Homo sapiens: one gene and its partners. The protein of the gene in region 7 purifies or fractionates together with the protein of the main gene of each other region. This does not show direct contact. Each region holds a gene or a part of one and is shown on either strand. Other genes may lie near its edges. The genes, in order: TMEM59L, AHCY, RCC2, LTA4H, ATIC, HMGCS1 and OCA2.

The links.
Region 1: the proteins of OCA2 (region 7) and TMEM59L purify together in Homo sapiens (affinity purification with mass spectrometry; one large-scale study listed by BioGRID and IntAct). This does not show direct contact.
Region 2: the proteins of OCA2 (region 7) and AHCY purify together in Homo sapiens (affinity purification with mass spectrometry; one large-scale study listed by BioGRID and IntAct). This does not show direct contact.
Region 3: the proteins of OCA2 (region 7) and RCC2 purify together in Homo sapiens (affinity purification with mass spectrometry; one large-scale study listed by BioGRID and IntAct). This does not show direct contact.
Region 4: the proteins of OCA2 (region 7) and LTA4H purify together in Homo sapiens (affinity purification with mass spectrometry; one large-scale study listed by BioGRID and IntAct). This does not show direct contact.
Region 5: the proteins of OCA2 (region 7) and ATIC purify together in Homo sapiens (affinity purification with mass spectrometry; one large-scale study listed by BioGRID and IntAct). This does not show direct contact.
Region 6: the proteins of OCA2 (region 7) and HMGCS1 purify together in Homo sapiens (affinity purification with mass spectrometry; one large-scale study listed by BioGRID and IntAct). This does not show direct contact.

The regions. Positions count from the first base shown.
Region 1 is NC_000019.10:18,618,705-18,621,539, reverse strand, and holds the end of TMEM59L (transmembrane protein 59-like precursor), read right to left. Parts: intron 1,133-2,835; coding exon 1,004-1,132; 3' UTR 501-1,003; downstream 1-500. UniProt on the Homo sapiens protein: Modulates the O-glycosylation and complex N-glycosylation steps occurring during the Golgi maturation of APP. Inhibits APP transport to the cell surface and further shedding.
Region 2 is NC_000020.11:34,289,856-34,293,355, reverse strand, and holds part of AHCY (adenosylhomocysteinase), read left to right. Parts: intron 1-848; coding exon 849-998; intron 999-1,824; coding exon 1,825-1,937; intron 1,938-2,417; coding exon 2,418-2,625; intron 2,626-2,717; coding exon 2,718-2,805; intron 2,806-2,906; coding exon 2,907-3,024; intron 3,025-3,500. UniProt on the Homo sapiens protein: Catalyzes the hydrolysis of S-adenosyl-L-homocysteine to form adenosine and homocysteine. Binds copper ions.
Region 3 is NC_000001.11:17,419,178-17,422,677, forward strand, and holds part of RCC2 (protein RCC2), read right to left. Parts: intron 3,115-3,500; coding exon 3,026-3,114; intron 1,652-3,025; coding exon 1,537-1,651; intron 1-1,536. UniProt on the Homo sapiens protein: Multifunctional protein that may affect its functions by regulating the activity of small GTPases, such as RAC1 and RALA. Required for normal progress through the cell cycle, both during interphase and during mitosis.
Region 4 is NC_000012.12:96,022,088-96,025,587, forward strand, and holds part of LTA4H (leukotriene A-4 hydrolase), read right to left. Parts: intron 2,461-3,500; coding exon 2,392-2,460; intron 165-2,391; coding exon 60-164; intron 1-59. UniProt on the Homo sapiens protein: Bifunctional zinc metalloenzyme that comprises both epoxide hydrolase (EH) and aminopeptidase activities. Acts as an epoxide hydrolase to catalyze the conversion of LTA4 to the pro-inflammatory mediator leukotriene B4 (LTB4).
Region 5 is NC_000002.12:215,322,059-215,325,558, reverse strand, and holds part of ATIC (bifunctional purine biosynthesis protein ATIC), read right to left. Parts: intron 319-3,500; coding exon 230-318; intron 1-229. UniProt on the Homo sapiens protein: Bifunctional enzyme that catalyzes the last two steps of purine biosynthesis.
Region 6 is NC_000005.10:43,296,413-43,299,912, forward strand, and holds part of HMGCS1 (hydroxymethylglutaryl-CoA synthase, cytoplasmic), read right to left. Parts: intron 2,564-3,500; 5' UTR 2,554-2,563; coding exon 2,106-2,553; intron 1,723-2,105; coding exon 1,597-1,722; intron 755-1,596; coding exon 590-754; intron 1-589. UniProt on the Homo sapiens protein: Catalyzes the condensation of acetyl-CoA with acetoacetyl-CoA to form HMG-CoA, which is converted by HMG-CoA reductase (HMGCR) into mevalonate, a precursor for cholesterol synthesis.
Region 7 is NC_000015.10:27,754,375-27,757,345, forward strand, and holds the end of OCA2 (P protein), read right to left. Parts: intron 1,099-2,971; coding exon 1,014-1,098; coding exon of another isoform or gene 985-1,013; 3' UTR 501-984; downstream 1-500. UniProt on the Homo sapiens protein: Contributes to a melanosome-specific anion (chloride) current that modulates melanosomal pH for optimal tyrosinase activity required for melanogenesis and the melanosome maturation. One of the components of the mammalian pigmentary system.

The DNA of each region.
Region 1 (2,835 bases), on a different chromosome or scaffold from region 7:
CAATCATAGCTCACTGCAGCCTCCACCTCCCCGCCTCAAGCAATCCTCCCACCTCAGCCTCCCGAGTAGCTGGGACCACAGGCTCAAGCCACCACACCCAGTTAATTATATATATATATGTGTGTGTGTGTGTGTGTGTGTGTGTGTGTGTGTATTTTGTAGAGATGGGGCCTTGCTATGTTGCCCCAGGCCGGTCTGGAACTTCTGGGCTCCAGTGAATCTCCTGCCTCAGTCTCCTAAAGTGCTGGGATTACAGGCATGAGCTGCTGCGCCTGGCCTCGAGTCAGTTTTCCAGGGACATCTGTAGCTGGGAGTGTGACCTGGGTTAGACCAGAGGGAGTGTCCTTCTGAGAGGCAGCTACTTTCAGTGCCTGGTGCCACCTGGGTTTCCAGGGCTTTCCCATGTCAGAAAGATCCTGCTCGGCAGGGGTCATAGCCATGCGTGGGCCACACCCCAAGGGCAGACAGACAACCGAACAGAAGCAGGCTCAGCCTGAAACTCTTTTATATACATGGTTTATTCCTCCCCAGCCCCAGACAAGCCCCAGGCACGCTTTATAGGGGCATGGAGATGCCCACACCCTGTCTCTCAGAAGCTGGGTCTCTGGAGACCGGGATGGGGAGAAGGGGGAAGCCCTAGCAAGACGCAGCTCCCCCTCAGCCTCAGCGCCCCCCCCGCAGAGAGGGGACATAGAAGGAAAAAGGAAGGTGACACAGGACTGGGGTTCAAATACTCAGAAAGCCACACAATAGAAGACAAAAAGTAGCAAGCCCCCAAGAAAGCGGGGACAAGGAGGAACCAGTGCCCGATCCCGCCCTCTTCCCAGCTGGGGCACTGCGTCCCCAGGACTCCGTGGGGCAAGGGGTGGGACTGGGAGGAGAGGAAGGATTTGGGGGTGGAGGGGCTCAAGGCTGGACCCACCCTGCCCTTGGACTCCTGGGCTCAGGGCAAGTGAGGCCCGAGGGGCCCCCTGCAGTTGGCAGTGATGGGGCCAGTGGAGGCCTACAGCTTGGTCAGGTCCAGCTTCAGCTTGTAGGGTGGTAGGCTGTCCTCACAGGCGTGGGACGGCGGCGGGTACAGGGGCCAATCGGGCTCCATCATGAAGCCCTTGTGCTGCTCCAGGGTCAGAGGCTGCAGGAAGAGAGGGGAGGAGGGAAGTGGAGGGACGGGGAGAGGCCGAGCCCCCAACCCTGACTGTCTCCTTCCCACCTCTGATTGTTTTATTTTTTTTCTTTTTTTGAGAGAGTCTCTCTCTGTCACCCAGGCTGGAGTGCAGTGGCGCCATCTCAGCTCACTGCAACCTCCGCCTCCTAGGTTCAAGCGATTCTCCTTTCTCAGCCTCCCAAGTAGCTGGGACTACAGGTGCACGCCACCACGCCCAGCTAATTTTTGTATTATTAGTAGATATGGGGTTTCACTATGTTGGCTAGGCTGGTCTCGAACTCCTGAAGTGATCTGCCCACCTCAGCCTCCCAAAGTGCTGGAATTACAGGTGTGAGCCACCACACCTGGACTTTTGTGTGTGTGTGTGTGTGTGTGTGTGTGTGTGTGTGTGTGTGTGTGTGATGGGGTCTTCTCTGTTGTCCAGGCTGGAGTATAGTGGTGCCATCACAGCTCACTGCAGCTTCGAACTCTCAGGCTCAAGTGATCCTCCCACCTCAGCTTCCTAAGTAGCTGGGATCATAAACATGCACCTCCACGTCTAGCTAATTTTTTTTTTCTTTTTTTTTTTTTTGAGATGGAGTCTCGCTCTGTCACCCAGGCTGGAGTGCAGTGGCGCGATCTCGGCTCACTGCAAGCTCCTCCTCCTGGGTTCACGCCATTCTCCTGCCTCAGCCTCCCGAGTAGCTGGGACTACAGGCACCTGCCACCACGCCCAGCTAATTTTTTGTATTTTTAGTAGAGATGGGGTTTCACCTTGTTAGCCAGGATGGTCTCAATCTCTTGACCTCGTGATCCGCCCACCTCGGCCTCCCAAAGTGCTGGGATTACAGGCATGGGCCACCATGCCCAGCCACATCTAGCTAATTTTTAAATGATTTGTAGTGACAAGGTTTCACTATGTTGCCCAGGCTCTGGGCACCACAGAGGTGTCACCAACACACCTGGGCATGATAGAGGTGAGGCCAACACCACAGAAGTGTGGCCACCTCTGACTTCATGTCGCCCCAACTAAGAGTGGATTTTCTTCCCACCAATTCAAAGGGCAGTGAAGAAACTGGCCCAAGTCATGCAGCAAGTGTGAGGTCCTGGCTGGGTGAGGTGGCTCATGCCTGTAATCCCGGTATTCTGGGAGGGCAAGGCAGGTGGATCACTTGAGCCCAGGAGTTCAAGACCAGCCTGGGCAACATAGTCCCCATCTCTACAAAAAATACAAAAATTAGCGGGGCATGGTGGCACGTGACTGTGGTCCCAGCTACTCAGGAGGCTGAGGCAGGAGGATTGCTTGAGCCAGGGAGGCCGAGGCTGCAGTGAGCTGTGATCATGCCACTGCACTCCATCCTGGGTGAAAGAGTGAGATCCTGTCTCAAAAATATATATATAGGCCGGGCGCGGTGGGTCACGCCTGTAATCCCAGCACTTTGGGAGGCAGAGGCGGATGGATCACCTGAGGTCAGGAGTTCAAGACCAGCCTGGCCAACATGGTGAAACACCGTCTCTACTAAAAATACAAAAATTAGCTGGGTGTGGTGGCCCGCGCCCATAGTCCCAGCTACTTCGGAGGCTGAGGCAGGAGAATTGCTTGAACCCAGGAGGTGGAGGTTGCAGTGAGCCGAGATGGTGCCATTGCACTCCAGCCCAGGTGACAGAGCAAGACTCCATCTCAAAAAAAA
Region 2 (3,500 bases), on a different chromosome or scaffold from region 7:
TGGCTCTGCTTGGCCAGCGTCCTTTGCTCACAAGAGGCTCCTGGGAACCCCACACCTGTGCCCTAGTCATGCCACATGGGAGGAGTGTGGGCTGGTGGTCAGTAGCCCTCAGTTCTGGTGTCTATTCTGGAATTTCATTTAGAGTGGCCCAAGTGCGTCTTAGCTCCTCTCTGGGCATCTGTAAGTGATGATAATGGTCATGGCTGCCTCACAGGGTTTCTATGAGGAAGAATGAGATGGGGTATGGAGGATTTAGAGTCATGTCTGGCAGAAAGCAAGTACCCCACACATGGTAGCTGCTCGTAGTCATTTTTTGGCCAGACTTTGCCTGAGATTCCCCCACACAGAGGCTGCTAGTGCTCCAGTCCTTTCAGTGCAGAGCAAACCCTGGATCCTGCCGTGTGGATCCTGCTGAGGGGGAGGCGTTGTGGGGTATCAAGCCCTGGTCACTCAGGGTTGATGCCTCAGTCCTTGGCGCCCAGGCAGAAGGGGATGGGAAAGGAAAGAATGATTTCCTGATATCTATATCTGGGGCGGGGGGCTGTACATGGCTTCTGTCTCACTTAATCCATACTATTGTGAGCCCTATTTACAGAGGAGAAGACTGAGGCTCAGAGAGGTGAAGTGATTTGCCCAAGGTCACACAGCTGGCAAGTGGCAGAGCCAGGGTTTGAACTCAGATCTATCTGGCTCCAAGTTGTGTCCTGACCACTGCTGAGTTTTCAGAGGGGCCGGAGGTGGCTGGGGATGGGAGTTGGGAAGGAGGTAGTTTTGGCTCTGCCAGAGTTGTTCCCTGGAGCAGGTACCAGTTGGGAAGTCCAGGCCCTGATGTGCCACTCACCCTCCAGTGTATGCCTGGAAGGGCGAAACGGACGAGGAGTACCTGTGGTGCATTGAGCAGACCCTGTACTTCAAGGACGGGCCCCTCAACATGATTCTGGACGACGGGGGCGACCTCACCAACCTCATCCACACCAAGTACCCGCAGCTTCTGCCAGGTGAGCAGGGCGGGGCAGGTGGGCTGGGTGCTGGTGGCCTGGGTGGGGCCTGTTTGCCCACATGATGGCCGCAGGCCTGGCAGGACTCCCATCACCTCAAGCAGCAGGATCTGGAAGATGGGAGGATGGCAGGCTCTGGCATTCATGCTGGGGCCTCCTGACTTCTGAGGGTGCGAGGCTAGGGCAGCTGAGCTGATGGCCCAAGGGCAGGCACAGACAGGGCCATGGTTGGGAATAGCTGGGAGGGAGCCAGCTTTGTTCAAAGCAGGTACGCAGAGTGCAGAGGCCCTGAGGCAGGAATGGCTGGAGTGTTCAGGAAACAGAAAAGAGGCCCACAGGATAGCAGTGAGCAAAGGGAGCCTTCACTGCGGGTATGGTGTGAACTTCGTGAAGACCAGATGTGTCAGGGCCTAATAGGCCAATAGAAAAGTGTTTGACCTGATTTGCAGAGCAAGGGGAAATAACTGGAGGGCGTTGAGAAGATTTCTCTGAGAAGATACATGTTAGAAATGGCTGCTGCATGGAGGATGGGTTGTGGTAGGGAGACTGGGAAGAAGCGACAGGGTCACGGACTAGAGCAGCGGCAGTGAGAATAGAGAAGCTGGGAGTTGTTCGGAGGCAGAGTCACTAGGCCTGGTGGTGGCTTCCCTGTAGGAGGGCGTTGGGGACTCCTCCCTCACGCGGGTCTGGGTGATTGGGGGGCCTGTGGGATCAGTCACAGAGATGGGAACCCAGAAAGAGGAATGGCTTTAGGGGGTAAAGATGAGGAATTTGCATGAGCACAGGTGTGGCATCTCTGAGGCTTGTCCTGTCCCCTCTTGTTTAGGCATCCGAGGCATCTCTGAGGAGACCACGACTGGGGTCCACAACCTCTACAAGATGATGGCCAATGGGATCCTCAAGGTGCCTGCCATCAATGTCAATGACTCCGTCACCAAGGTGAGCCGAGGGGCAGTGACAGCTCCCGCTACAGTGGCTGCAGCTCAGGACGAGGCCTCTGAAGAAGAGTGCCCAGGAAGGCTGAGATTAGGGACATGAAGCCCTCATTTGAGGGGGCAAAAGCGGTTATAGACAGGCTAATGAGTGCGTTTAAAAGGGGTGTCAGAGCTGGGTGTTAGGAGCTTTATGGCTTTGGGAAGAAGAGCTTTCAAGTTAAGCAAGGTCTTTGACCGGGCAATCTCTCCTAGTAACTGATGCCTAGGAAGGCTCCACACTGGCAGAGAAAGATTAGAGAGAAGCTCTTTGAGCCGATCGGGGTGAAGGGCTTGTGGGGGCATTGGGTGCTGGAGGGGTTCAGCCCAGGCCGGGATGCTTGGTGGGCCCATGATGCCTGGGCTCTTCAGAATACTCTGAGGCCAAGTTGTCCTGGCCCCAGGGCCTTGCCTGCCCCTATTGTCTCCTTACCCCCTTTCCTTTCAGAGCAAGTTTGACAACCTCTATGGCTGCCGGGAGTCCCTCATAGATGGCATCAAGCGGGCCACAGATGTGATGATTGCCGGCAAGGTAGCGGTGGTAGCAGGCTATGGTGATGTGGGCAAGGGCTGTGCCCAGGCCCTGCGGGGTTTCGGAGCCCGCGTCATCATCACCGAGATTGACCCCATCAACGCACTGCAGGCTGCCATGGAGGGTAGGATAGGGCAAGGGTTGGTTGTCAGCCACTGGGGCCAGAGGGAGGGGCAAGGCCACCGTAGATGACCCACAGCCACTGTCTCTGCACAGGCTATGAGGTGACCACCATGGATGAGGCCTGTCAGGAGGGCAACATCTTTGTCACCACCACAGGCTGTATTGACATCATCCTTGGCCGGTAGGTGCCAGATGGGGGGTCCCGGGGAGTGAGGGAGGAGGGCAGAGTTGGGACAGCTTTCTGTCCCTGACAATCTCCCACGGTCTTGGGCTGCCTGACAGGCACTTTGAGCAGATGAAGGATGATGCCATTGTGTGTAACATTGGACACTTTGACGTGGAGATCGATGTCAAGTGGCTCAACGAGAACGCCGTGGAGAAGGTGAACATCAAGCCGCAGGTGAGAAGCTCCCGCCTTGCCAGTGGGCTGGGCAGATGGGAGTGCAGAGGAGTGCTGGCTGCCAGGGAGGAGAGCTGAGGAGATGGTGGCAACCTGTGCAGGGGGATGGGGAGAAGAGGGCCTAGCATCAGAGCCAGCCAGACGTGGCAACCTTATCCTGTGGGCAGCCGGCATCCCTGAAGGTATCAGGCAGGTGAGCTGTATGTGGTGAGGCTGTAGTTTTAGAAAGATCACTCTAGCTACTGTGTGCAGAATAAAAGCAACAATGGCGGGTGGTGGGGAGAGAGGCTTTTAGAGGAGGCTCGTAGAATCCCTGCAGGGGATGATGGCAGCCTCAGCTTAGGGAGTGCTGGGGTGGATGGACGGCATGTGGGGTCAGGATGGAGGCAGAGTAACAAAGGACACAGCTTTGGCCGGGCATGGTGGCTCACACCTGTAATCCCAGCACTTTGGAAGGCCGAGATGGGCGGATCACC
Region 3 (3,500 bases), on a different chromosome or scaffold from region 7:
AACCCCGTCTCTACTAAAAATACAAAAAAAAGTTAGCTGGGTGTGGCAGCGGGCGCCTGTAGTCCCAACTACTTGGGAGACCGAGGCAGGAGAATTGCTTGAACCAAGGAGGTGGAGGTTGCAGTGAACTGAGATCACACCACTGCACTCCATCCCGGGTGACAGAGGGAGACTCCGTCTTTCTTATCTTGGCGTTGCCCAGCCCAGTTCAGTGCACTGCAAAAAAGGGGGCACAAGGCATGAGTGTGTGTGGATGAGACACGGCCATAGTCGGATTTAGGTTCATTCTAAAAGTGATCTATCTGGATTTGGACAACGAAACAAACACCTGCCTTAAAGCAAGTAATACGCTGAGAATAAGCGATTCTGTAGCTACAAATCAAGCCGATTTCCAAACTACCTGCAAGTTGAGTGTAACTGAGCACCTGCGAATTTGTACAAAGTGCTTACATGGTGCCTGGCACACACAGTCACTGCTCCATGAAAGTGAGCCGTTTTTATCACCAACAGCATGTCATGCTTCCTGACGGAAAATCGACTTGCCGGGGTGCAGAGGGGAGGCCAAGGCAGCAGGAGCGCGCACGTGGCAGGAAGCGGACCGCTGCTGGGCACCGCAGCAGGGCTGTGGCCATGGAAACCGCTCTCCAACTGTCTCGGGCTCCACCACGGCAACCAACGCGAAATGTGAAATGTGCGTAAGGGGCTGTTCTCTCTTATTCACTTCTGACTTGAAGTATATTTAGTTTCACAAAGTCACTGTTCCCCGAGGCTAAGGCCAGCGGGCTCGGCGCTATTTTTACCTTTTCCATCTGCCAGGCGCTGCGGCTGCAGGAGCGCGCGCGGCCAGCAGAGGGCGCCCGCGCCACACCTCGCGGAGGCCTCCCCAGAGGGGCTGGAGTGGAGGCAGAGCCACAACCGGGAAGCGCACTTCAGGGAACCGCACTTAGGGTCCGATGGGAAGGAGAATGGAGACCATCAGGTCGGAAGACACTCCCCCCACTAACTGAGAACTGATGCCTGAATTCTCCTTTTCCACCAATGAGATCGAAGAAACAAGTTTCTGGACAACTAGATTCTGGCTAGGGATGACGCACGGGGAGGGGGTCCACCAGGGCTCCTCACGTGGCAACCCGAAATAATCGCCCAGGCCAGGGTTTCCAGAACAACGTTCATTTTCCGTAATTTTCTCATTTTCAATAAAGGCATAATCTTTAAATGTGAAATTGAATGAAGGTGGTCTGATTTTTTTTTAACTTTGAAATCCCTTTATATAAATGAATTCCCAAATCAGAAAAAAAGAAATCTTTTGTAGGACTCCAGTCCCAACTTTTCCATTGAGGCAGTGTTGCAATACTCCATAATCCTGTGAATGAGGACGCGCTGTTCTGCTGAACGTGAGATCCACTTAACGGACAAAGGCTATTATCTGAGATCAATTACCCACATTTCTAACACGTGTGTGCAGCCCCACACTGATCTCTAGTTCTGAATATATACAGTTAGATTACAGAGCTTTTAAAAAATGTACTTCCATACCCAGCTGACCATATTCAGGGCACCCAAAGGAATAGAGGTTTCCTTTGCAGTCCATTATCATACTGAATTCAGCCCCACAGGCCATTTTGGTAATTGGCTGGCCGTTGTACATTATCTGAAAAGACAAGAAAGGAGACTTTCATTTTTTTTAAAGACTGATAAAAAGCCTCTACCTCTCTGCATGTTGGTGGGAAACAATTACTAGGTTACAAACGGAAGTTTAATAAACTCAGTAATTCTGAAGGCAAAAGCTGAAGGCATTTCTAGAACACAAAGCTTAGAAGATATGTAAAGAAGCACCCTCAGACCCCCACCCTCCCAGCACAGAGCAGTTCAAAGCCTAGCCACTGTCTCTTTAAGATCAATAAAACCAAGTCCCTCCCTTCCTTCATCACCTAGACCACTAATTAGGCACTTAGCATTCTTCTGCCTTTAGTAGTAGTTTGTTTTTAAGGTATAAATCTCACCCCTCCAACTCAAGTTTCTTAGAAAAAAAAAGACTGCCTATCTCCTGGGCGCGGTGGCTCACACCCAGCACTTTGGGAGGCCGAGGCAGGCAGATCAGGAAGTCAAGAGATGGAGACCATCCTGGCCAACATGGTGAAACCCCATCTCTACTAAAAATACAAAAATTAGCCAGGCGTGGTGGAGCATGCCTGTAGTCCCAGCTACTCGGGAGGCTGAGGCAGGAGAATCGCTTGAATCCGGGAGGCAGAGGTTGCAGTGAGCTGAGATCGCGCCACTGCACTCTAGCCTGGCAACAGAGCGAGACTCTGTCTCCCCTCCAAAAAAAAAAGACTGCCTATCTCGTATTTGTATTCTAAGCATCTGGCTGGTGACTTTATACAAGGTCAAAACAAAGTATTTGGGGGAAGTACAATTACATCCATATAACATCACTCACTTTCTTTGGAACAGAACAGGCTTACGACAAGGCATTTCTAACAGATTTCTCCATTTGGAAACAAAATGTTTTCAGGATGGTTTTCAACCCGACCACAAACTAAGCCTGTTTTAAAAACTATAGCAAGGCTGTGTGCAGTGGCTCACACCTGTAATCCCAGTACTTTGGGAGGCCGAGGTGGGTGGATCACCTGAGGTCAGGAGTTCCAGACCAGCCTGACCAACATGGAGAAACCCCGTCTCTACTAAAAATACAAAATTAGCCAGGTGTGGTGGCACATGCCTGTAATCCCAGCTACTCCAGAGGCTGAGGCCGGGGAATCACTTGAACCCGGGAGGCGGAGGTTGCAGTGAGCCGAGATTGCGCCATTGCACTCCAGCCTGGGCAAAAAGAGTGAAACTCCGTTCTCAAAAAAAAACAAAAAACAAAAAAACAAACAAAAAAACTCTACAGCATGTAACTAAACATCCAGACCCTGTTTTTACAAGGGGTAAATTAACTCAAACGGAGACCCCACCTTAGAAAATCAAACACAAAAGTAAAGAGAAACAAAAAGCCATGGAGCCGGAGCTGAGGAGGGGTCACCTGCGCGGGGCTGGGAACAGCGTCTGTCTGGTTGCCAAGGCCCAGCTGCCCCATCTTGTTTTCCCCAAACGCAAACACGGAGCCCGTTTCTGGAAGAAAGGAAAAATATCACAAAAGGGAAGATAATGGTGAATGTTTTGAACTAGATTTAGAATCAAAGGCATCAAAATAATAAAAACAGCTCATTTGCCAGGCAGAAGGCAAGTGAGACTGCCCAAAAGCTGGCAGTGCAGACGCTTCACAGCAAAGCCATTTCACATCAGAAACTGGGTGTGCAGAGAAACAGAGGGCAGCGTCTCCTACTCCCAGATGGGCCTCCTATGGCCACTGGGGAGGCTCCCAATGCCCTCAAGAAGCCACTCCATGCCAAGGTTCTCAGGGCCTCTTTCTGATCCTGACCAAGAGTCACAAGGGGAACTCCACCACCCCACGCCCCATCCCCAAGGCAGACCACCTGGCCTCTTGCCAAACTGAG
Region 4 (3,500 bases), on a different chromosome or scaffold from region 7:
TACAAGCTAACTGTAGTTTACCGCCAATGAAAACAAAAATCTAGACCCTAGGATCTTACTTTTTGGATGAATTTGTATATTTTCCTGCTTGGGTCTTCTGGGTCAGGTGTTTCTCCATCACGAATAGCACTCATAAGTGCCACCAGTTCTTTAGGGACAGACACCTAATCAAGGAGAAAAATCATTTCTAGTCATAAATAAAAGCTTCTATGTGTCTTAAACCATATATGTAAAATAACCTTTTCTTCCCATTCTTGACTATCTAATAAACAGACTATGAACACAAAAAGTATATACATATACAAAAAGTATATATATACACACACATATATATGAACACAACGTGTATAGATGTGTATATATATGCACACATATATATGTGTATATATATAAAACACATATACAAAAAGTATATATATACACATATACATATCAGTTTTGTAAATAAAATTAGCAATATGGGAAACTGGCTTCTTTAAAAGTGAATGTGAAATTTCTATCCATTCACCCATGCACATTAAGAGCAGAGTTTTGGTAGAAACTGGATTAAAATCCCAGCTCTGCCACCTAATAACTAACTGCACAAACTTGGGCAAATAAATATAACCCCCGAGCCTCAGTTTCCCCATCAAGTAAGTGTAAAACTTCAAAGGCTTGCTGCAAGGAATAAATAATATAAGTGAAGAGCCCAGCACCATCCCTGGCAATGGCAGCCACCATCCCTGCTCCCGCTACACTCACAAAACAGATTCAAAAGGACGTTATATACTCACTGTAGGACAGAATGGTTTTGAACAATTTTGTTTTGAAAACACACACTTGGAGTTACAAATAGAGGAACATTTTAAAAGTAGTAACTGTGAAAAACTAAAATTTATTGCTAAAAACTGTCAAATAATTTTCTCTGGAAATCCATACGGAAAAGACCCTTATGCGGCAAACCATATAGTCATTTAACTGTGTATCCTAGCTCCATGATTCTGAAAGTTTGATTTCTGATGAATGCCAGAATAAAGGACTCCCCCAAGTATTAATGATCAAACAAGAATATATTCCAGTAGGGGCTAGACTTTCATGTTCTTCTTGCATGGCTCAGGACCCAAAGCTGTGACTGAGGCAGGCACAGAATTAGAAGTTCCTGAACCAGTGCTACAACAATTGTAGATTCTAAAGCACAAAACTATTCAGGAAATAATTCGGTTCAGCCACCTCCCTTCATTTAGGTGGTGATACGTTATATATATGTGCCAGCTGAGGTTGCGAGGTCATAAAACTTGTTCAAGTGTCACATCATTATTTATTTATTTTTTTAGAAATGGGGTCTCGCTATGTCGCCCAGGCTGGCCTTGAACTTCTGAGTTCAAGTGATCTTCCCACCTCAGCCTCCCAAGTAGTTGGGACTTCACGCAGTTATTAAGTGGTGGAGAAGAGCCAGAGCCCTGGGATTCTTTGCCTCCAAGTATAATATATCACTGCACTATCCTAGATGTAATTTGGTTGTGGGATGATTTGGGAAGCAAGAAGGCCCCATAAATATGGGTTGGTCCTCATTCTATTTGCTTGGTCTAAGTAGGTCTAGCCTCCGGGATAGTGATTATTTAGTAATTACAGTCCGCCTTTTCCAAAAAGGATTAGCAGTACCTACCAAGGGAATAAGTTGGAATTGCATACAGACAAGTCTGGAATATATGCCCACTAGGCTTATATGGCTACAGAATGCATTTATAGAAACTTAAATCATGCAAATGTCAATTTTTAAAAGTTAAGTAAAAATTGTTCCTAAGTTCTTATTTCTAGATCCAGGATTCTGAATTTCTTCTTTTTGTTTGTTTGTTTTTTTGTTTTTTGGGTTTTTTTTTTGAGACGGAGTCTGGCTCTGTCGCCCAGGCTGGAGTGCAGTGGTGCCATCTCAGCTCACTCCAAGCTCTGCCTCCTGGGTTCATGCCATTCTCCTGCCTCAGCCTGCCGAGTAGCTGGGACTACAGGTGCCCGCCACCATGCCCGGCTAATTTTTTGTGTTTTTTTTAGTACAGATGGGGTTTCACCATGTTAGCCAGGATGGTCTCGATCTCCTGACCTCGTGATCCACCCATCTCGGCCTCCCAAAGTGCTGGGATTACAGGTGTGAGCCACCACACCTAGCCCTGAATTCCTTTTTAAAAGTCAGATTGGTTTCCATTTCCTTTTTTTCACAGTTAAAATGTTTAAAACTGCCTTTAAAGTAGAGATTCAGAATGAGTGCCACAGCCTCTTTGTTTACATATTTCAGGTAGAATTTCATTAAGAAAAATAATTCTAGCTCTAGGAATTCAATTATCATCTCTGCTTATCATTTATACCATATTTACTGATATGCATCATTTAATTGAGTTAATAATTCGTAATATTTACCTCTGCAGTATAGGTTAATTTCACAGAAGGAGTGTCCTGACAAGGAAGGATTGCTCTGCAGTGGATGGCCTGAAAAAGGGAGAAACAAGAAGAAATAGCTATTTATCTTTCGCATAAGTCATTAAGAAATCATTAAAAATTGCAGCATTGTTCTTAGACATTAAAATAAAAACAGTCCTCATTTCTTGGGATTTTTTTTTTTTTTTTGAGACGGAGTTTCACTCTTGTTGCCCAGGCTGGAGTTCAATGGCATGATCTTGGCTCACTGCAACCTCCACCTCCCGGGTTCAAGCAATTCTCCTGCCTCAACCTCCCGAGTAGCTGGGATTACAGGCATGTACCACCACGCCCAGCTAATTTTGTATTTTGAGTAGAGATGGGGTTTCTCCATGTTGATCAGGCTGGTCTCGAACTCCCAACTTCAGGTGATCTGCCCACCTCGGCCTCCCAAAGTGCAGGGATTACAGGCGTGAGCCACCACGCCTGGCCTTTTGGGATCTTTTAAAGTCCAAAAATAGATTCTTGGACTTTTAAAAATCAGATTTTCCATTTTAATCTATGGTTAACCCTCACATTTCAGTTGAAGCATGGAGAAACTCTTAAGCAGTGTTTCCTACTCTATGGTCTGGGTGACAGTAGTGCCCAGTGAGAAGCTTTTAGAAACCTGAGAAAAAAGGGCTCTGTAGCAAAACAGACCTGAGAAGTATGGCATACTGCACCACTGTCTTGCAGAGCCACTAGAATATTAGCCGCCTGAAGGCTCTGAACAGACCTACAATAAAGAAACCTGTTTGATTTCTTACATTTATGTTAACACAAAACCCATTTCTCTCTGGTTTAACACCTAATGGGATGTCAGTATTCTAATGAACACAGCCTGAGAAATGTTGCTGTAATCCTGACACTTCAATCTTGCAGCAAACCTTGTAAGTAAAACAAAGAAGCAAAGAAGGGAGAAAGAACAGTCTCTTTCAATACCATCTAGACATATTCATTCATATCATATGCAAAGTGTTTCTGTACTGCCACACCAATCGTTATTAACATTGGTTCCATCCAGTATGACCACAGGCCAGGTGCCGTGGCTCACTCCTGCAATCCCAGCACTT
Region 5 (3,500 bases), on a different chromosome or scaffold from region 7:
TAAATAAATAAATCAGGAAAATAACCCAGATGCATCTCTGCATACAAAAAAAGCTTAGAAAATATAAATGAAAAAAAGAAAATATAAATGAATTATAGTAATCCCAAAACACAATCCAGAAGTAGCTATTTTCTTTCTATTTCCTCAGTAATAAAATTCAAAATGAAATCTCACTAAAATTTAAATAATCCTCTCCTCTCAGTCTTCTAAAATGGTTTTTCTGACTTACCAATGTCAATTTGCTCCACAGCCTCCTCAACAGTTACACCTGGAGAAGCCACTGTCTTTACAAAGGGATAGAGATTGCAGGCAACAACTCTATAAAACAAAGACGAATCTGGCTGTCATTAAAAAGTCCACTCATGTGGTTTACAGCTATCTAGGAAAAAAACAAGTCAGTACTATTAACGTAAACAAAAGCCATAGAGAACTAATATATAAACTGTGAGCCTGACATTTTAGAATTCTAACGAGTGTGTTAAAAAGTCAGGGTGTCCTGCTGGGGTCGAGCAGAGGTAATTTAGTCAGCAGGTGCTCCCCGGATCTGAATACACAGTACTCCCTCCACGTCACACTGCAACGCTGCTGCTTGCATAACCTTAGCTACCCAGAACCACCAAGCCATGAAAAATTTATAGAACATTTTAATAGAAGTATAAAGTACAAGATTACAGATAACATTCTCATTTTGGAATGTGATCACTATTATCCAGAACATTAGAATTTAGATTCTTTTTCCAGTGGATTGGCACAATGATGAAAAATATCAGAGCATTCTAAGGGTGAAACATTTGTTTTGCCTTCAGAGAGGTCATAAAAATGATGGTAACAGGAATGCCAAAAGAATAATTTAAAATACAGAAGTAATCTAAAATTAACAATCAGTGAAGTACAGTTCCACTCCTAGGCCTGTAGTGCGAGGAGCTCTACGGGCAGGCTCCAAACAAGCCTAACTGCTGAAAACTAATTAAAAAAAACAAAAACAAAAACAGAAGAACAGAATTGGAGGGGAAACATTTTGCAGCTCATCTTTATTAAGTCTACTGCCCTCCTACTAAAACCAGACAAATGTCACAAGAAAACTAGAGACCAGTATCTCTTAGGTATCTTCACACAAAAACTCTCAACAAAACACTAACAAACTGAATCCAGAAAAATGCAAAAACCACCTGATCATCTCAATAGATGTACAAAAAGGATCTGACACAATTCAACAGGTATTCATATAGAAACACTCAGCAAATTAAAAATAGAAGGGAACTTACTGAACATGACAAAGTGTAAGAAAAACCCACAGCTAACATCATACTTGATGGTGAAAGACTAAAATACTTGTCTACTCAACTCAGAAACAAGACAAGAGGCCAGGCGCAGTGGCTCATGCCTATAATCCCAGCACTTTGGGAGGCTGAGCCAGGCAGATCACCTGAGGTCAGAAGTTCGAGACCAGCGTGGCCAATATGGTAAAACCCCATCTCTACTAAAAATACAAAAATTAGCCGGGCAAGGTGGCGCACGCCTGCAATCCCAGCACTTTGGGAGGCTCAGGAGGATGGATCAACTGAGGTTGGAAGTTCAAGACCAGCCTGACCAACATGGAGAAACCCCATCTCTACTAAAAATACAAAATTAGCCAGGCAAGGTGGCACATGCCTGTAACCCCAGGCTGAAGCAAGATAATCACTTAAACCCGGGAGGCGGAGGTCACAGTGAGCCAAGATCACGCAACTGCACTCCGCCTTGGGCAACAAGAGCAAAACGCCATCTTAAAAAAAAGAAACAAAACAATAATGTCCATTCTTACCACTTCTACTGAACACTGTACTAGAAGTTCTAGCCAGAGCAATTAGCAAAGAAAAGAAAATAAAAGGCATCAGGACTGGAAAGAAAGCAGTGAAGTTATATCTATTTGCAGATGATACCACCTAGTATACAGAAAATCCCAAATTCACAAAAATAACCTTTTAGCACTAATAAATGAGTTCAGCAAAGCCGCAGGATATATGATCAATATATAAAAATCAATTGTATTAAAATATACATTAGCAGTGAATGAGAAAAAAATTAAGAAAACAATTCTACTTCACAAGACAATGTTAAAGAAATTAAAGACACCCCATGTTCACAGACTGGAAGATTTAATATTCTTAGGATGGTAACATTTCCCAAATTGATCTACAGATTCAACACAATACCTATGAAAATTCCAACTGCGTTGTTTTGCAGAAATGGACAAGCTGATTCTAAAAATCATGTGGAAATGCAAGGGACTCTGAAGAGTCAAAGTCATCTTGAATAAAAAAAACGAAGTTGGGGCCGGGCGCAGTGGCTCACGCCTGTAATCCTAGCACTTTGGGAGGCCGAGGCGGGCGGATCACGAGGTCAGGAGATCGAGACCATCCTGGCGAACACGGTGAAACCCTGTCTCTACTAAAAATACAAAAAAATTAGCTGCGCATGGTAGCGGGCGCCTATAGTCCCAGCTACTCGGGAGGCTGAGGCAGGAGAAGGGCGTGAACCCGGGAGGCAGAGCTTGCAGTGAGCCAAGATCGCGCCACTGCACTCCAGCCTGGGCAACAGAGCCAGACTCCGTCTCAAAAACAAAACAAAACAAAACAAACAAACAAACAAAAAACAGAAAAATGAAGTTGGAGGACTCACACTTGCTGATTTCAAAATTTGTTACCAGCCTATAGTAATAGTGTAGTACTGGCATAACAGCAGGCACATGGACCAAGGGTGCCAAGACCATTCGATTGGGCAAAGAACAGTCTTTTCAACAAATGATGCTGAGACAACTAGACAGCCACATACAAAATAAAATAAGACTTCTATTTCATGTCTGTATATGAAAATTAACTTAAAATGAACCAAAGACTTAAGTATAAGAGCTAACACTAAAATAACTCTTAAAAGAAATGTACACACGCCGGGTGCGGTGGCTCACACTTGTAATCCCAGCACTTTGGGAGACCGAGGCAGGTGGATCACCTGAGGTCAGGAGTTCAAGACCAGCCTGGCCAACATGGAGAAACCCCGTCTCTACTAAAAACACAAAAAAATTAGCTGGGCGTGGTGGCGGGCACCTGTAATCACAGCTACTTGCGAGGCTGAGGCATGAGAATCGCTTGAACCCAGGAGGCGAAGGTTGCAGTGAGCCGAGATCACGCCACTGCACTCCAGCCTGGGCAACAAGAGCGAAACTCCATCTCAAAAAAAAAAAAAAAAAGAAAGAAAATATACACAAAAATCTTCATCACTGAGGATTAGGCAATGGTTTCTTAGACATGACACCATTAACACAAGCAACAAAAGAAAAAATAAATTCAACATCATCAAAATTAAAAACTTTTGTGGGCCGGGCATGGTGGCTCAAGCCTGTAATCCCAGCACTTTGGGAGGCCAAGGCGGGCAGATAACCCGAGGTCAGGAATTCAAGACCAACCTGGCCAACATAGTGAAACCCTATCTCTATTAAAAATCCAAAAAAATTAGCCAAG
Region 6 (3,500 bases), on a different chromosome or scaffold from region 7:
GATATTTGTCATTGAATATGATTTTTAACCCCTTCTCATAACCTCTAAAAAGCAAAGTTGGACTACAGAAAAAGTATACTTTATGTAATAATGTGTTATGATAGCATTAACTCAAATACTGTCCTTTCAGTGCCTCAACAAATTTCCAGATTAATGATAACAGTAAAAAAACAAATACAAATTCACAGGTCAAGTGCAAAAAGATTATTTTTGGGGTAAGATCACTTTAGTAATTCATTTTCATTAGCTTTCCCTGAATCACAGCTGTAGTCCAAAACCTTGTTAAAATACCTCTCTCAAAAGATGAACAAAATTCAACTTACCTTCTTTTCTCCACTTTGATTTTCTTACAAGGGGTAAACCGACCTAAATATTTTTGCAGAGATACACCTCAGTTCCAAAGTTTACCTCTTCTAGTAAATTACACTTTCCCAGAAACTATGGGAAAATGTTGTTTGGTGAATGAGGAATTAATGGTAAAAGGATATTAAATGAAGAATGCCCACAAAGTAGTTGCCTACCAAAGATACCTAGTACATTAGACTGCTCTCAACTCATACCAAAACCAAGGAAAATGGGTAAAACTTACCTTTCTGCCACTGGGCATGGATCTTTTTGCAGTAGACAGAATAGCAGCGGTCTAATGCACTGAGGTAGCACTGTATGGAGAGTTTTCCATCTACTATAGGATATTCAGATAGCATATCAGGCTTGTAAAAATCATAGGCATGTTGCATATGTGTCCCACGAAGCCCTATTAGAACCAAAAAGGAAGATGTCTATATATTTCTGCTTCTTGATGTCTGTATGTTAATAAGTATACTGCATTATCTAAGGACCTTCCTTAACTATCTGATCAATTCTCACCACTTACAGTAGAGAAATCGCAAGCTGAAGCCAATATAAGTGAAATGATACATAACAGTATCCATGGACAGTCCTAAGACTCCTTTGGTATACAACTTTCCATGTCAGTTTCATAACTCTAACAGTTCACAGTTACTCTACTACACTGAAGACAAATTAAAATTGCCAGTGACTATCAGCAAGTTACTATTTATCATTTGAACCCTACATTAACCCACTTCTCTGTAAAGTGGGGATGACACCACCTACCTCATAAAACTGCTATGAAGATTAAATACAGGCCAGGCATGGTGGCTTACGCCTGTAATCCCAGCACTTTGGGAGGTTGAGGGGGGCGGATCACCTGAGGTCAGGAATTCGATGCCAGCCTGGCTAACATGGTGAAACCCTGTTACTAAAAATACAAAAAATTAGCCAGGCATGGTGGTGTGTGCCTGCAATCCCAGCTACTCAGGAGGCTGAGGCAGGAGAATCACTTGAACCTGGGGGCAGAGGTTGCAGTGAGCCGAGATCGTGCCATTGCACTCCAGCTTGGGCAACAAGAGTGAAACTCGGTCTCAAAAAAAAAAAAAAAGAAAAAAAAACATAAATATGATAACACACATAAAGCTCTTAGCAAGTAGTACCTGCATTTAATGACCATTAAGTAAGCGACAGCTCCTACTTCTATTTTCAAATTTCTCAGCATATTGTGCTAAAAAAAACAAAAATGCTTTCCCAAGCACTTACCTCGTTCAAAAATTAAAGGAGCATTTGGCCCAATTAGCAGAGCTACTGCTCCAACTCCACCTGTAGGTCTAGCATTTCCTGTGGCATATACAGCAATATCTCCTGCAACTACCAGGGCATACCGTCCTGAAAAATATTTTTTGTTATTTCACAAGAAGGAATTCAACACTATAACCAAACATGGAAACTGAAGTCTGTTATATTTTCCCCAGAATATGCTTTTCCCTTCTTTGATAAAGAAAGAAAATGCTCTAATTTTTTTTTAAAATTCATCTGCCAAGGCTCTGTCATCCATCTGACTAAATTTTGAATAGACCATTTGTCCTACAAGATAAGATAACCAATTCACAATTCGGATAATGACAGACAGGTAAAATATCTTTCTTAATATATCCAAACAAGGACAAATTACAAAAGTTTGCGTATTGCATTAATTAAAGTGTCATCTGGGTCTATTGAACCTTAGAAAAAAATTTTGGGGGACGGCGGGGAATAGGCATGTAACATACCATCCCAAGAGCTGGACTCAATCCAGTTAACAGCATTGAAGACAGCAGCTGTGCCTCCATAGCATGCATTAGTTGTGTCGATTCCTTCTATATCTGTATTCCCAGACTCTTCAAACAGCTGCATCAAATTAGTCTTCACAGACTTTGATTTGTCGATGATTGTCTCTGTTCCAACTTCCAGCCGCCCAATGCAATCATAGGAAAGGTTATTTCTCTCCATAAGATTCTGAACCACAGTCATGCAAAGAGAGTTAATATCTTCTCTATCTGTGCAGAAGCCCATCTTGGCCTGGCCCAAGCCAATGGTATACTTTCCAGCATCTACACCATCATATTTTTCCAACTCTGCTTGATCAACATATTGAGAAGGAAAATAGATCTCAAGGGCAACAATTCCCACATCTTTTGGCCAGCAAGCTTCTGCATTCAAAGGAAGTGATCCAGGCATGGTGAAAGAGCTTTAGAAAGGAGAAACAGAAAAAAAATTGTTTTAGGTTATAAGTTGCTGGTTTTCAACTTTGAAATTGAGAAATAGATATTAAGAGTTTAGCAATCACCTGAAGTATTAGTTTCTTTAAGTTTAGTATTTAGGGCACTCAATTGTGTACATGTGAAGTAGCAATTATTATATGAATGGAATATTATCATTTAAAATTATAGTCTTTTAGAAAGGCTTCCATTTTATTCAAAATTGGGCATCTCTAGATTTAAAACATGATTATTAGAGGTAAACAACACTCAAATAAGATTTTCTACATTGTAAAGAACTGTAAGATAAAATACAATGATAATTTAGAAATATGGCTGACAAATCAGAATTACCTGACCACCCGAAAGTTTTAATAAATTAGGCCGGGCGTGGTGGCTCATGCCTGTAATCTCAGCACTTTGGGAGGCTGAGGCAGGCGGATCACAAGGTCAGGAGATCGAGACCATCCTGGCTAACATGGTGAAACCCCGTCTCTACTAAAAATACAAAAGAATTAGCCGGGCGTGGTGGCAGATGCCTGTAGCCCCAGCTACTCAGGAGGCTGAGGCAGGAGAATGGCGTGAACCCGGGAGGAGGAGCTTGCAGTGAGCAGAGATCATGTTACTGCACTCCAGCCTGGGTGACAGAGCAAGACTCCGTCTCAAAAAAAAAAAAAGAAAAAGTAAAAATCAATCAATCAATCAATCAATCAATCATGTATTCATCATAGATAAACCAGTCCTCTTTTAAAAAAGGGACTAAAAAGTAGTGTCTAGATTTACTTACCAATAGCAACAAAAATCACTAGCTACTCAAGACCATTGTTGGGCATTTAACTTACCAGAGCTTCAGCTTCTTTAACAGGTTGTATTAGTCAGGAAAAGAAAAATTACTATAGATATTTCAAACAGAGGGGAGTTTTAATG
Region 7 (2,971 bases):
AGTCAGACGCTTGACACACAATCACTTCGGAGCAGTGTCCCCATTTTCATTCCAAGGTGTCATGCACAGAAGATCAGAAACTGAAGAAGGGCTTCTTCCTCTGGGGCATAGCCATGATACTGATGAGGCAGAGCAGAGGAGACCTCGCAGGAAGCACAGGGCTCCCCCTTGGTCTTTGTTCTCATTACCCTTACCTCACAAGGAATGCTTCACAAAAGAACTGCATTTAATAAACACCGACTGAGCCACAGCGTCCTGCAGGGAGAGCAGGACTGAGGGTATCGAGTGTACGTCTGTGTAATTGATGGAAATAGCATGCACCACTTGCAAAATGGAAAAATCATTACTCTAAGCTGTTAAATATGTAAGATATCCTTAAAAGATACCTATGATCTTCTGCAAGTCAAATTTCTGGACTTTTAATTAATAACTTTAAAACTGCAGAGAAAAATATAAATGGATAAAATGCAATTTTACATAATGTAAACTACTCCAAAGCCTTTTATCAAGGAACAGTTTATTTTAATACATAAAATGTTTCCTTACGAGCAGTAAACCTTTTCCCAGAAAGTCTATATTCAGAAAGCATACAATTTGAATGCTGATTATTTTAACATGAAAAGTGATTACAAGAAAAACAAACTGTGTTTAGCCTCAGGAGAATTGACAGTTAAACAGTACAGTCAATTTTAGGTGGATGTGTGTCTTTTCCTATGTATAGCAGGAAGGGTTTTTAAACATACGTATTTTTCTGGAGGGGAATCTTGAGTAAGTTATCTCACATCTTTCTACATTTTGTCCTTGGGGAGAAAGGACACACAGAGGAGGTCATGGTGTTCCAACATTCGCTTGAATTAGAGTGTTAGTGTCAAGGTCTATTCCACTGTGTCTCTGTAGCATCTCCAGGGTAAGCACCTTTTCTTCTTCAAACAGTGGGGTCAGGGTAGTTTTATGACTAATGGGTTGTGATGGATGAAGTTTCCTTTAGTCTTCGAGCAATAGATGGATGTCTATTAATTCCATCCCACCACCACATGAGCCACAAGGAGATAACACATCCCAACAGTGCAGGACACAACCATCATTGGGAAGCCCAGCCTGAAATACAAAGAGAAATGAGTTATGGCATCTGAAATCTGGATAATCTCATGAGATACGGACTCATAGCTCATGAGAACATGGCCTTAGCACCTTTGCATTTTCACAATGGCCACTACCTTTTATTTCCATAAATCAGGAAGTTAGTTTTAGACTAAATTATGTGAATGCATGCTTCTATTAGACATCCTCCATTGTGTGCAATTTTATTTGAGAACTGCTTAAGGTTTTCTCAAATTTTTAATGGCTATATGGAGCCTCTGTTTGTTCATCTATATTAGACTGTTGGTCTTTCAATGCCATGTGCTGGGCCACCATTTAAATCTCTGGATGTTTCCTCTACTTGTGTCATCTTCCAACTTTTCTTCTCTGGAGATTTCCCAGAGATCCCAGCTTCCAGCAGGCTCCTGAAGTCCCTCACACTTAAGGCCAAGGAGAGCTTGATAAGTAGTGTTGGAAACTAAGGCCAACTGTTGTCTAAGGAAAGGCAAAGGGAAGAAGAAGTTTTTCTTCTGTAGCCGGTGAGGTGTGAGACGTGTGGACAAGGAGGGTATGCACAGATACAAAAGCAGTCATGAGAAGAGAGAAGCATCCCTCATTGTGTGCCTCCTCCAATGTACACACATCTCCACAAATTCCTACCCCAGCTTCCAGGCACTGACAGATGCCACTTGGCATGGGTAATGCACGCTCTGTAGCCATTGCTCAGTGCTGCCTGGTCACTAAGGGAAGCCCCTGCAAATGTTACAATTTTGGTTTCAAAAGGCTTAAGTTTTAGCAGTAAGAGCCTAGCATGTGGCAATTATAAAGACATTCTCTCTTCCCTGGCCATAAGTGTAGGAAGAGGCTACTCAGAAAGAGCCACAGCAAGGGTTCCTCAACAGAGCTACAATTAAACACAAAAACTGATTCCATGAGCGAGACAGCTCCCGAAATTATAGAGTAGACTTGGGCATTTCAAGAAAGTGGTAGGATTCTCTTGGCTTCTCTTCTGAACACATTTTATTTTACAAAACAAACAAAAAGAAACACAGAACATATTTTGGGAAAACTACTTAAATTTCTTGAACTTTATCAACTTTGTTTTTGAAAATAGCTGAACATGTTTGCAAAATGTCAGCCCTGATCATTGAGTTCTGGAAAAACACAACCCACGACAGTGTCTGGTCAACTCCAGGCATCACAGACATCACTGCAAGCCTTCATGGAAGCACAAAGCCTTCGTTCCTCTGTGACAGATTGTGTAGAGTGAGTCAGTGTCAGGTAAGATGCCGAGAATCTCAATCCGGGTGCTGAGACACCTGGCCATGTTTTAGAAGCAAATTTGCCTGCCAAGGGGTGAATTCCACAAAAAGCAGACCTTGCTTGAGAAGCCCAAGACTGGAGAAAGTTCCTGGTGGGTGGTTTTGCCGTGCTCCCAAGTGAGAGCCACTGATGTCTTGAGGATGGCACCAACGCAGAGAAGGAGCATCACCTAGCATCACCAAACATTTTCATTTCACCCAGAACTGATGCAATCACTCAGACCCATCAGAAACCCTACTCTCCCTCACAACACCTAGTCACTGTGACACTCTCCATGCACAGGACCCTCTCAACTGCCCACAGTGCCTTCTGGAATTGGCATCATCACACCTACTGCAGAGGTGGGATGTTGAGAGGTAAGCAGGCTTGCCTGGGTCTCTCAGCTAGTTTGCTCTGGTGTGACAATCCAAATGCATCAGTCTAACTCTAGTTAGATTGTGTGATTAAGAGTGATTAAGAGTGTGTACTCCTAATCACTACATATGCTGCCTCCCTGTGGACATGGATAAATCATAACAATGGCAACCTGCCATTAGTAGGTAAATGACTTACTGAATATCTGCTGTAT